Linked DNA regions of Homo sapiens: regions 1 and 2 are each reported to be linked to region 3. The links are microRNA targets in miRTarBase. Many come from high-throughput screens and were not tested one by one. Region 3 holds a microRNA gene; each other region holds the end of a gene's coding sequence.

Region 1 (4,118 bases), not on the chromosome of region 3:
TCGTGTACGCCTCACTGGGCGCTCTGCTCTTCACCTGCGTGAGTGAGGGGTGACCTTGGCCGGGGGCGGGATGCTGGGCAGGCAGGCTTGTCCCTCAACACCACTGTGCTGTCACCTCCAGTTCCTCGCAGTGGACACCCAGCTGCTACTGGGGAACAAGCAGCTGTCCCTGAGCCCAGAAGAGTATGTGTTTGCTGCGCTGAACCTGTACACAGACATCATCAACATCTTCCTGTACATCCTCACCATCATTGGCCGCGCCAAGGAGTAGCCGAGCTCCAGCTCGCTGTGCCCGCTCAGGTGGCACGGCTGGCCTGGACCCTGCCCCTGGCACGGCAGTGCCAGCTGTACTTCCCCTCTCTCTTGTCCCCAGGCACAGCCTAGGGAAAAGGATGCCTCTCTCCAACCCTCCTGTATGTACACTGCAGATACTTCCATTTGGACCCGCTGTGGCCACAGCATGGCCCCTTTAGTCCTCCCGCCCCCGCCAAGGGGCACCAAGGCCACGTTTCCGTGCCACCTCCTGTCTACTCATTGTTGCATGAGCCCTGTCTGCCAGCCCACCCCAGGGACTGGGGGCAGCACCAGGTCCCGGGGAGAGGGATTGAGCCAAGAGGTGAGGGTGCACGTCTTCCCTCCTGTCCCAGCTCCCCAGCCTGGCGTAGAGCACCCCTCCCCTCCCCCCCACCCCCCTGGAGTGCTGCCCTCTGGGGACATGCGGAGTGGGGGTCTTATCCCTGTGCTGAGCCCTGAGGGCAGAGAGGATGGCATGTTTCAGGGGAGGGGGAAGCCTTCCTCTCAATTTGTTGTCAGTGAAATTCCAATAAATGGGATTTGCTCTCTGCCTTCCCCTGGTCACTCTTCTCCCTGCCACTTTCAACATGAAGTTGGGAGGGGCTCCAGGCCCTCCCTGCTGATGGAGACACAGGACCAGAAATGAATAGTGGAGATTAATACAGTGCCAAGCCTCTGCCCACACACAGCTACATCATAAGGTGTGTGTTGGGTTCCCAACTGATGGACAGAGACCCTGGGGTGCCCAGAGTGAGTTAAGCCTGTGCTGGGGTACCCCAATGGTAAGTGGCCTGGCTGTGTCTACCAGGTGCTCCGTGGAGATGGCACGGTATAGCCGCCTCACTCTTCTGTCGCCTGGGCCAGCGGCACAGGTCATTGGCCTGCCCCAGGGCAGCCTGCCATGCTCCTTGGGCGCTCCTTGGGCCTCCCCAGCTCTGTGCAGTCCATCTGTGTGGGCACCCTGATATTCCACCCAGGCCTGCCTCTCTCCAGCCTCCCCATGAGAAACACAGGCTGGAGATCCCGTCCAAGAGCTGGACAGAGACTGAGGGCTCAGCCATTTGGGCCCCTTGGCCTGCCCAGGCCCGGTCCTTTGGAGCCCTCAGCCCCAGCCTGCAGTGCGTTTCCTGCCCTGTGACGCCTGCTGCTCCTGCAGGGGGTCCCTCCATTGCCTGGGACCTGGCTGGTCTGAGCCCTGCTGAGCTCTCACACCCCGCGGCTCTAGGCCCAGAGGCAGCTTTGGACTTGGATATTCCCACTGCAGCCTCGAGGCTCTGCATGCAGCGTGGCCTGAGGATCTCTCAAGGCCCCTCCCCACTGCCCAGTCAGTCCCCTTAGCACCTCTGTGTACGAAGCCAGCACCACCCTGATGTCCGCGGGCACCGCAGTTGTGGGGTGCCCAGAGCCAAGCTCATCCTTCCTGAAACCTGCTCCTGCATTATCTCCAGGCCAGAGCAGGGGCTGCCCCGCTTCCCTCTCCCTCCCAACCTCCCCTGCCTCACCTGGCCTCCTCGCCTGCCCCGCCCTCCACCAGGACCCTAGCGGTGTGTTTCTGAAACATCAATCACATCCGTTGCACTACCCGCCTGCCTAAAACCCTCGGTGGTGCCCTCAGGATGAAGTCCACGCTCCTTAGCCTGGTACGCGGGCCCTGCCATCTGCCCACTGGTGGCTCCAGCTGCCCTCCTGTTGTCCTTTTGCCTCTCAGCCGGGGGCCCTGACCCTGCACAACCTGAGTCACGAGTGGGCTCCCTGCTGCAGTGCTGTCATTGTTCACAGACAGTCCCTCTGCCAGTGTGGGGACACACACTGCCTTCCCAGCCACGAGGGCACCTCCTGGAGTCCACCTTGCCCTCTGCAGCGGCTAATCACATGCTGAGCAGCGAGTGGGCCACACGGCTCCCCCTTCCCCCACCTCCCCTTCCGGCTATTTCCTGAGCAGGTGCAGTTCCTCCTCTGGGTGCCCGCCTGTGCTCCAGCATGCTGAGGAGGAGAAAGAACCTGCCTAGCTCTAGCTCCCAGACCCCTCAGGATTTTATACGAAAGAGGAGAATAAAGTGTTTATGTGGCTAACGAGAACGTCAGGGCGGGGGCAGGGGTGGTCTCGGGAGTAACTGCCAAGTGAAATGTGCCAGGACATTGTTTTCTTGAGGAGTTTGAGACGGACACAAACTCTTGGCTGAGAGGGAGAGGCTTTAGTGAGGCTCCCTGGGAACGGCAAGCTCCAGAGGTGTGGGACAGGGCCAGGGGGTGGAGGGTCCACAGCAAAGACCCCCACTGCCAGAGAGAAGGCCAGGGCTGAACACAGGAGGGCTTGGGCCTATCCTGCAGGTGAAGGGCACTCAGGCAGGGGCCACAGCTGGGTTTGTGTTTAGGAAGATGAGTCTGGCAATAGACGGTGCAGGGGAAGTCATGGGGCTGTGAACAGGTGAAGTGGGCCACAAGGAAGCCATTGAGACATGCCAGAGAGGAGCTGGGAGCACAGACGCCTCCAGAAGCATCGGGAGGTGCCAATTAAGCCAGGCTGGGCACAGCCGAAGGCCAGTGGGATGTGTCTGACAACTGAGAGGTCTGCTATCTGCTGTGTCCCAGCCAGGGAGTGAAATGAGTCCGAGTACGTGGTGATGTGGCCAGGCAGATGAATCGGCACGGGGTGCTCACATGGAGTCATGAGGCTGAACGCACCTGTAGCAATTGTGAGGCCACCACACTGATTCTTCAGGTAGAAAGAAGACCAGTCGCTGACATCTGGGAGCTGATCTGGTCCTATCTTGTAGGCCTCAGTGTTGCTAGGAGCTGTCCTGGCACTCACAGATAGAGGCCTTGGTGTTGCTAGGAGCTGTCCTGGCACTCACAGATAGAGCCCTCAGTGTCTCCTGGTTAAAATTGCATAGAACATCAACATCAGACTACTCTGACCATGATGGATCAATACAAAAACAAGACCCCTCTGTTATCACTCTGAACACAGACAAAACATGGGCACTGTCCAAGCTGTAAAAAGGGCAAGCAGTGCCCTGTCCCAGCCAGTCTGAGTGGCTGCTGCCTCTTCACAGCTGACAGCTCTAGCCTGGCTCTAGTCTGTCCTCCTTCCAAATACGATGCATTGAGATTCCCAGTTGCAGAATGACGCCTGCTTCCTGACAGCACCAATCCAGAGCAGAGTCCCGCTTCCCTAAACCCTCCCCCAGATTACTCAAGCCAAATCCTGTAAGAAGTCCTTTCCAGCACCCTCTTAACACGACGCCCCAGGGTGTGGACGCTCCCCCACGATGAGCAGCCACGGGCGTGTTCAAGCATGGGCGTGTCCCCGGGGCTTCACAAGGAGCACTGACACAGGTCACTGACTATATGAAGGCCAAAAAGAGACTTAAATAAAGGAATTTATTTCTCAATCAAAAAACAAGTTATATACGTAAGCAAATATTAAACCCACACTTGATTTCAAGATTAAACAACACAGACATCTATGGAACAAAATGTCCAAGTCTCCACCCCATTCCCCACCCTGCAAAGCAACGCTGTCAATCAACGGTGCCTGCTGAAACCCTAACAGACAGTTGGGGCCAGCTCTGGACCCCAGCTCAGGTGAAACCAGCACGGGAACCCCATTCCACTGCCTCTGGCTAACTGGGGCCACTGTTCTGCAGCTCTGGATTGGAAGCACCTTCAGAACAGAGACTGTGCTCTGTGAGTTTTAACATCCAGCCTAGCACCTAGTCCAGGGCCTGGCACACCACAGGCGTCAAACGTGAAAGGAAGGAATGACCTTTTCACGGCATGATCAGCATGAATGCTCACTGCCCTCACCAGGCCCAGAGGAC
Region 2 (4,118 bases), not on the chromosome of region 3:
GCTGGCATACCTTGTCCATGGCTCAGTTCGGTCACCATCTCCTTCCTCCCCAGATCCCTCCAGGACCTGGTGTGAAGTCCCTGTGTGCCTCCCCATCATTCCCGGGCTGCAGTCACCCCTTTTCCTGTCTGTCTCTCTCACTACTCAAGGGAGGGAATGGTGGCTTCTTTGTCATAGTCAGAGTCCTGCACAGTGCCTGGCACATAGTAGGCCAGAAAGAGAAGGTCAAAGTCTCAGTGACTCAATTCTTCGGGTCTCATGTGGAATGCAGGGCAGGGGCAGAGCTGTTGTGGGGGTTGTGGGTGCGGCCTCCCACCCCCCAGCTGCACCCATGGGCCCATCCGTGCTGCCCGTAGGAGGTGAGAGAGAGGCCTGATGCCTGGCACTGTCACATAGGTCACTCAGGATGCAAGAAGAAGGCCTGAAGGACTCGCTGGTGAAGGTGGCCCCCAAGAGGCCGCCCAAGAGATTCGGCTGTTGCTCCTGATCACCTGTCCTGTCCTGGGTAGGATGGACACCCATGGGGTTTCCTGTCCCTCAGCTCCTGTCCTTTGTTCCTGGACAGCAACGACACAGAGGACCAGCTTGGAGGTTCAGGAAAACCCTTCTCAACTCAGGACTCGGATCCCAGAGCAGGGCCGCATCACCTCTGCCTTTCACACTCCAAAGGAGGGCTTTGCTGAGTGAACAAGGCTTGAGGGGCAGGGGTATGGCAAAACTCTCCAAACAAAGAAAGTCTAGAAAAACGACTTAAGGAAAATACACCAAAATATTGGCCGCACATCTGTGGGTGTAAAATTTTAGGGAGAATGTGGGGGGGGGGTGTTACTTTCCATTTTACACATATTTGTATTTTCAGATTTTCAACAATAACAGTATTCAATACATAATCAGAAAAAAGAGATGTGGAGGAGGAGGAGAGAAACTTCCCAAGGAGCTCCCTTGGGTGCTGCTGGCTCCTAATTAGTGTAACCTGTTAATCACATGTTGCTCGGTGTTAGAGCGGTCCCTCTGTGCTCTGCTTGGCAGGGCGCTGTTGGCCTGGTCTCCCTCGCTATTTCTATTTGCAAGCATGGGCTTTCTTCCCAGCAGAATCTGGTTCCTGGGAAGAGTAATGTTCCAAAGGCCTCTGATATGCCTCGATGCCCTCCTGTCTTCCAGAGCCCCAACCTCACTCCCTTTCCCCACCATACAAAACACACCTCCCAGGGGTCACATTTGGGGGTCCCGCCCCCTGCTCCAATGCCATGGTGTCCCCAAGCACAGGGCTTTGGCCTGAGTTGTCAGTCTCTGGATGCATTTGAGGGGCAGCTAGGGTGTGGCTGGGGGGTCCAAGCAGCTGGGGAGCCGAGACTCAGAATCATTCACACACTTCTATTTGGAGCTTTTGTGGAAGTTTCCAGAATTCCATAATATTCACCTCCTGAATGGTGGCTGCCCCTTATCAGCTAGGGCTGGGGTTTCCAGTGCCCTCGGAGAGCTTGCTTTAGAGTCTTGGAGAGACGGCCATGGTCTTCGTTTGTATGTCTGTCACATCTTACCATCATCACAAATTGAATATACAACATGTGCCAGGCACTGAATTTGTTTGTTTGTTTTTTGAGACAGGATCTCTCTCTGTTGCGCAGGCTGGAGTACATTGGCATGATCGCCACTCACAACAGCCTCAACTGTCTGGGCTCAAGTGATTCCCCCACCTCAGCCTCCCAAGTAGCTGGGACCATGGGCACATGCCACCACATCCGGCTAATTTTTTAGCTATTTGCAAACACAAGGTCTTGCAATGTTGCTTAGGCTGGTCTCAAACTCCTGGGCTCAAGTGATCCTCCCAATGTGCTGGGATGACAGGCGTGAGCCACCGCCCCCAGCCTGGGTTTGGTATTTTGTAATCCTTCAGGTACTGGGGAATTTCCTGGCTGAATCAATGGAAACCCCAGTTTCATAGGGGGACAAGCAAAGACAGTTCAAGGAACAGAGTTACAGAGAGAGAGAACGAAGGAGAAAGAGGGAGCAACAGAGGGCTGTTGCATCACACAGTCTTAGGCCCTGGCCCCAACCCCTCTTCTCAGTTCTGAAAGGAACGTCTCAGCAGCAGTGAGCCTTCCATCACCAGAGGCGCACAAGAAGACAGGTAATGCTTGGCAAAGGTGAGGTAGAGAAGATCCCAGCATCTGAAGCTGCCAAAGTTGGATTAGATTCCCTTAATGGACCCCATTCAACCTCCAGACTCCATGTGGATGATTCCCATGGTCCAGCTGATTCTTTGTGTGTTTTTGTTTTGTTTTGTTTTGTTTTGTTTTTTTGAGACGGAGTCTCACTCAGTCGCTAGGCTGGAGCACAGGGGCGCAATCTCGGCTCACTGCAACCTCCACCTCCCGGGTTCACGCCATTCTCCTGCCTCAGCCTCCCAAGTAGCTGGGCCTACAGGCGCCCGCCACCTCACCCAGCTAATTTTTTGTATTTTTAGTAGAGACGGGGTTTCACCATGTTGGTCAGGATGGTCTCGATCTCTTGACCTCATAATCCACCCGCCTCGGCCTCCCAGAGTGCTGGGATTACAGGCATGAGCCACCGCGCCCGGCCCTCCAGCTGATTCTTTTACTGGGCCCTTCACTGATCCTTTTTACCCCAATGTCTTCTCCCATCTCAGGTCCCCTCCCGCAGCCCACAAGCCTGCCCCTGAACTGAGCAGTTTCTCAGTGTGCTCAGAGAGAGAGAGAGAGAGAGAGAGAGAGAGAGAGAGAGAGAGAGAGAGAGAGAGAGAGAGAGGGGTGTGGGCTGCAGTGAGTGATGCTGGCCCTGGATAAGGATGGGAAACAGGTCCTATAGTTGCTAATGGCTCTTTCTCTGGGGCCCAGGGACCTGGCAGGCACCAACATCTCTGTCCTGTAGGCCAGGGAATTAATGAGGCAGGTAGGCAGGGTGTGATTCCTGGGAGAGGCAGTAGAGCAGACAGCCCCTGTCGTTTGGGGGCCCGGTACGGGAGTGGCCCCCAGGCCTCCCCGTCTCAGCTCAGCTCTGTTGTGGCCTCAGGCAACTCAGGTTCGCAGGAGGTGGAGTTCTGGGAGGAACTCCACACTGCCCAGCACCCTCTTTTGGCTTTCTTGGGCCGGATCCACCTGCTGGGCAGGGCACAGCTGTGCAAGGACCACCAGCCTTTCCTGCTGTCAAAGGGCTCACAAGCCAGGGAACAGGACCCAGGAACCTCAGAGCAGCACAAAGTAGGCAACGACAGCAGCAGGAGAAACTTGAGGTAGACTTCAGAGTGAACTTCCAGGCAAGTGGTGAGTTCTTGGGGCATGTCAGCCAAGGAGGCTCTGATTTAGGCTTAGCCAGAGTCTGATTAAGAAAAGGAGGGTGGGACTGGGCTGATGGGACTCAGGCTGTGGAGTGAGAAGGGAGGGCATGGGGAGAGAAGGAAGGCTGGGCAGGAGCTCTAAGAGAAGAGGGCTTTTGGGAGCTGAGGGTGAGCAGGGGCAGAATGACATCCCTCCTTTACCCAGTGCCTACCGTATGCCAGGCACTGTTCTGAGCACCTAGCTCGTGTTAATTCATTTAGCCCTCACACCATCAGGCGTGCTCCCCCATCTTACGGAAAAGGAAAGTACTGCATAGGGAGGCTGAGTAACTTCCCCGTAGTCACGTAGCAAGTAAGTGCTGGAGCCAGTGTTAAACGCAAACGCCGATACCCATAGACTTAACTCTGAAGTTATGCAACTGCTTACAGGAAGATGCGGATGCTTCGGGGAAGGAGGGGCCAGGTCCCTGAAGCCTCGTATTGCTCCCTGCCAATTCCTCTCCAGTAATAGTCCATGTCATTGGTGGGTGTGGACCAGGAAAAAGAGACGAAAAGGCAGTGATAAATGCCAGGAAAGTGGCTGGATGACAGCCTTCATCCAGGACAGGTCCTTCATTTCCCCTCCTCCTGCCGTCTCTGAAGCTGGTGGGACCCGGGAAGGTGGCCGACATCAGAATTCACAGAGGCCCCCTCTCCAGTCTCCCCTCAGCTGCCCTCAGGCACGTTGCTGCCCTGGGGCCCCAGAGACGAAGCCAAGTTCCCCAGGCTGGGGCTCTGCAGGAGGGACTCAGAGACTCCTTCAAACCTGGCTTTGAGCCCG
Region 3 (4,118 bases):
GGCTGGGTGGAGCCGTCCCCCCATGGAGCACAGGCAGACAAAAGTCCCCGCCCCAGCTGTGTGGCCTCAAGCCAGCCTTCCGCTCCTTGAAGCTGGTCTCCACACAGTGCTGGTTCCGTCACCCCCTCCCAAGGAAGTAGGTCTGAGCAGCTTGTCCTGGCTGTGTCCATGTCAGAGCAACGGCCCAAGTCTGGGTCTGGGGGGGAAGGTGTCATGGAGCCCCCTAGGATTCCCAGTCGTCCTCGTCCTCCTCTGCCTGTGGCTGCTGCGGTGGCGGCAGAGGAGGGATGGAGTCTGACACGCGGGCAAAGGCTCCTCCGGGCCCCTCACCAGCCCCAGGTCCTTTCCCAGAGATGCCTGGAGGGAAAAGGCTGAGTGAGGGTGGTTGGTGGGAAACCCTGGTTCCCCCAGCCCCCGGAGACTTAAATACAGGAAGAAAAAGGCAGGACAGAATTACAAGGTGCTGGCCCAGGGCGGGCAGCGGCCCTGCCTCCTACCCTTGCGCCTCATGACCAGCTTGTTGAAGAGATCCGACATCAAGTGCCCACCTTGGCTCGTGGCTCTCACTGCAACGGGAAAGCCACAGACTGGGGTGAAGAGTTCAGTCACATGCGACCGGTGACTCCCTGTCCCCACCCCCATGACACTCCCCAGCCCTCCAAGGCCACTGTGTTTCCCAGTTAGCTCAGAGCCTCAGTCGATCCCTGACCCAGCACCAGGCACTGATGAGACAGCGGCGGTTTGAGGAGCCACCTCCCAGCCACCTCGGGGCCAGGGCCAGGGTGTGCAGCACCACTGTACGATGGGGAAACTGGCCCAGAGAGGTGAGGCAGCTTGCCTGGGGTCACAGAGCAAGGCAAAAGCAGCGCTGGGTACAAGCTCAAAACCATAGTGCCCAGGGCACTGCCGCTGCAGGCGCAGGCATCGCATCACACCAGTGTCTGCGTTCACAGCAGGCATCATCAGTAGCCTCCAGAGGCCTCAGGTCCAGTCTCTAAAAATATCTCAGGAGGCTGCAGTGGCTGACCATTGCCTTGGACCGCTCTTGGCAGTCGAAGAAGATTCTCCTGTCAGTTTGAGCTGGGTGAGCTTAGAGAGGAAAGCTCCACTATGGCTCCCAAACCAGGAAGGAGCCATAGCCCAGGCAGGAGGGCTGAGGACCTCTGGTGGCGGCCCAGGGCTTCCAGCATGTGCCCTAGGGGAAGCAGGGGCCAGTTGGCAAGAGCAGGGGGTGGGCAGAAAGCACCCGGTGGACTCAGGGCTGGAGGGGAGGAGGCGATCTTGCCCAAGGCCCTCCGACTGCAAGCTCCAGGGCCCGCTCACCTTGCTCCTGCTCCTTCTGCTTCTTCTTCTCCAGCTTTCGCTCCTTCATGCTGCGCAGCTTGGCCTTGCCGATGCCCCCAGCTTGGCGGATGGACTCTAGCAGAGTGGCCCGGCCACCGGAGGGGTCGACCACTTCCCTGGGAGCTCCCTGGACTGGAGCCAGGAGGTGGGGAACAGGGCAAGGAGGAAAGGCTGCTCAGGCAGGGCTGGGGAAGCTTACTGTGTCCAAGAGCCTGCTGGGAGGGAAGTCACCTCCCCTCAAACGAGGAGCCCCGCGCTGGGGAGGCCGGACCTTTGGAGACTGTGTGGGGGGGCCTGGGCACTGACTTCTGCAACCACCTGAGCGCGGGCATCCTGTGTGCAGATACTCCCTGCTTCCTCTCTAGCCCCCACCCTGCAGAGCTGGACCCCAGAGCTAGCCATGCTCTGACAGTCTCAGTTGCACACATGAGCCAGCAGAGGGGTTTTGTGCCACTTCTGGATGCTAGGGTTACACTGGGAGATACAGCAGTGAAGCTAAAATGAAAAATGTGTTGCTGTAGTTTGTTATTAGACCCCTTCTTTCCATTGGTTTAATTAGGAACGGGGAACCCAGAGCCTCACTTGTTCAGGCTCCCTCTGCCCTAGAAGTGAGAAGTCCAGAGCTCTACAGTTTGAAAACCACTATTTTATGAACCAAGTAGAACAAGATATTTGAAATGGGAACTATTCAAAAAATTGAGAATTTCTGACCACTTAATAAACCCACAGAAAATCCACCCGAGTGCACTGAGCACACCAGAAATCAGGTGGCCTCAAAGAGCTGCTCCCACCTGAAGGAGACGCGCTGCTGCTGCTGTCGTCCTGCCTGGCGCCTTGGCCTACAGGGGCCGCGGTTGAGGGTGGGAGTGGGGGTGCACTGGCCAGCACCTCAGGAGCTGGGGGTGGTGGTGGGGGCGGTGGGGGTGGTGTTAGTACCCCATCTTGTAGGTCTGAAACACAAAGTATGGGGTGTCTAGGGAAGAAGGTGTGTGACCAGGGAGGTCCCCGGCCCAGCTCCCATCCCAGAACCCAGCTCACCTACCTTGAGAGGCTCGGCTACCTCAGTGTGGAAGGTGGGCAGTTCTGGAATGGTGCCAGGGGCAGAGGGGGCAATGCCGGGGCCCAGGTCGGCAATGTACATGAGGTCGTTGGCAATGCCGGACAGGTCAGGCAGGTAGGATGGAACATCAATCTCAGGCACCTGGCCCAGGTCTGGCACATAGAAGTAGTTCTCTGGGACCTGCAAGATTAGGCAGGGACATGTGAGAGGTGACAGGGACCTGCAGGGGCAGCCAACAAGACCTTGTGTGCACCTCCCATGGGTGGAATAAGGGGCCCAACAGCCTTGACTGGAGAGGAGCTCTGGCAAGGCCCTGGGCCACTGCACCTGTCTCCACCTCTGTCCCACCCCTCCCACCTGCTGTTCCAGCTGCTCTCTCTTGCTGATGGACAAGGGGGCATCAAACAGCTTCTCCTCTGTCTCTGCCCCCAGCATCACATGGGTCTTTGTTACAGCACCAGCCAGGGGGTCCAGGAAGACATACTTCTTCTACCTACAGAGGCGACATGGGGGTCAGGCAAGCTGACACCCGCTGTCCTGAGCCCATGTTCCTCTCCCACATCATCAGGGGCACAGCGTGCACTGTGGGGTCCCAGGCCTCCCGAGCCGAGCCACCCCAGTCACCCCCTGGCTCCTGGCCTATGTGCTGTACCTGTGTCTGATGACCTGGGTCCCCACTAAGCCAGGCCGGGCCTCCCGCCCACACCCCTCGGCCCTGCCCTCTGGCCATACAGGTTCTCGGTGGTGTTGAAGAGCAGCAAGGAGCTGACAGAGCTGATGTTGCTGGGAAGACCCCCAAGTCCCTCTTCTGCATCGTCCTCGGGCTCCGGCTTGGTGCTCACGCACACAGGAAAGTCCTTCAGCTTCTCCTGGGAGGGCCAGGATGGCCAAGGGATGGTGAATATTTGGTGCTGGGCCTAATCAGCTGCCATCCCATCCCAGTCAGCCTCCTCTGGGGGACAGAACCCTATGGTGGCCCCGGCTCCTCCCCAGTATCCAGTCCTCCTGGTGTGTGACAGGCTATATGCGCGGCCAGCAGACCTGCAGGGCCCGCTCGTCCAGGGGGCGGTGCTTGCTCTGGATCCTGTGCGGGGGCGTCTCTGCAGGCCAGGGTCCTGGGCGCCCGTGAAGATGGAGCCATATTCCTGCAGGCGCCCTGGAGCAGGGTACTTGGCACTGGAGAACACCTGTGGACACAGGGACAAGTCTGAGGGGGCCCCAAGAGGCTCAGAGGGCTAGGATTGCTTGGCAGGAGAGGGTGGAGTTGGAAGCCTGGGCGAGAAGAAAGCTCAAGGTACAGGTGGGCAGCAGGGCAGAGACTGGGCAGCCTCAGAGGCACGGGGAAATGGAGGGACTGCCCAGTAGCCTCAGGACACAGGGGTATGGGGACTACCTTGATGGCCTTCTTGCTGCCCTTGATCTTCTCAATCTTGGCCTGGGCCAAGGAGACCTTCTCTCCAATGGCCTGCACCTGGCTCCGGCTCTGCTCTACCTGCTGGGAGATCCTGCCATGGAGAAGATCACAGAGGCTGGGCTGCTCCCCACCCTCTGCACACCTCCTGCTTCTAACAGCAGAGCTGCCAGGCCAGGCCCTCAGGCAAGGGCTCTGAAGTCAGGGTCACCTACTTGCCAGGGCCGATCTTGGTGCCATCCAGGGGGCCTCTACAAGGATAATCTGACCTGCAGGGTCGAGGAGTTGACGGTGCTGAGTTCC

Evidence for each region. Region 3 holds the annotated microRNA hsa-miR-6859-3p (UGACCCCCAUGUCGCCUCUGUAG, at 2,898-2,920, opposite strand). A microRNA usually pairs through its seed, bases 2 to 8, with sites in the 3' UTR of a target mRNA and lowers its output. Matches are read on the target gene's strand: a 7mer-m8 pairs with bases 2 to 8, a 7mer-A1 pairs with bases 2 to 7 and ends in A, and an 8mer does both.
Region 1: miRTarBase lists GRINA as a target of hsa-miR-6859-3p. Seed matches in the 3' UTR shown: 7mer-m8 at 725-731.
Region 2: miRTarBase lists RAB44 as a target of hsa-miR-6859-3p. Seed matches in the 3' UTR shown: 7mer-A1 at 1,209-1,215, 7mer-m8 at 1,221-1,227 and 7mer-m8 at 1,326-1,332.

What each region holds. Positions count from the first base shown.
Region 1 is chr8:143,992,571-143,996,688 of GRCh38, forward strand. It overlaps GRINA (glutamate ionotropic receptor NMDA type subunit associated protein 1), which reads left to right. Exons shown (of 7, transcript NM_001009184.2): 6 at 1-38; 7 at 122-845. The coding sequence ends at 271. It also overlaps a transcript of PARP10 not described here. Among named protein-coding and RNA genes, the nearest start is that of GRINA, 4.6 kb to the left of the region's middle.
Region 2 is chr6:36,731,607-36,735,724 of GRCh38, forward strand. It overlaps RAB44 (RAB44, member RAS oncogene family), which reads left to right. Exons shown (of 14, transcript NM_001257357.2): 14 at 397-1,578. The coding sequence ends at 487. Among named protein-coding and RNA genes, the nearest start is that of RAB44, 36 kb to the left of the region's middle. RefSeq lists an enhancer at 3,654-4,118.
Region 3 is chr1:184,994-189,111 of GRCh38, forward strand. It overlaps MIR6859-2 (microRNA 6859-2), which reads right to left and starts at 2,965; the gene lies at 2,898-2,965. It also overlaps the pseudogene WASH9P.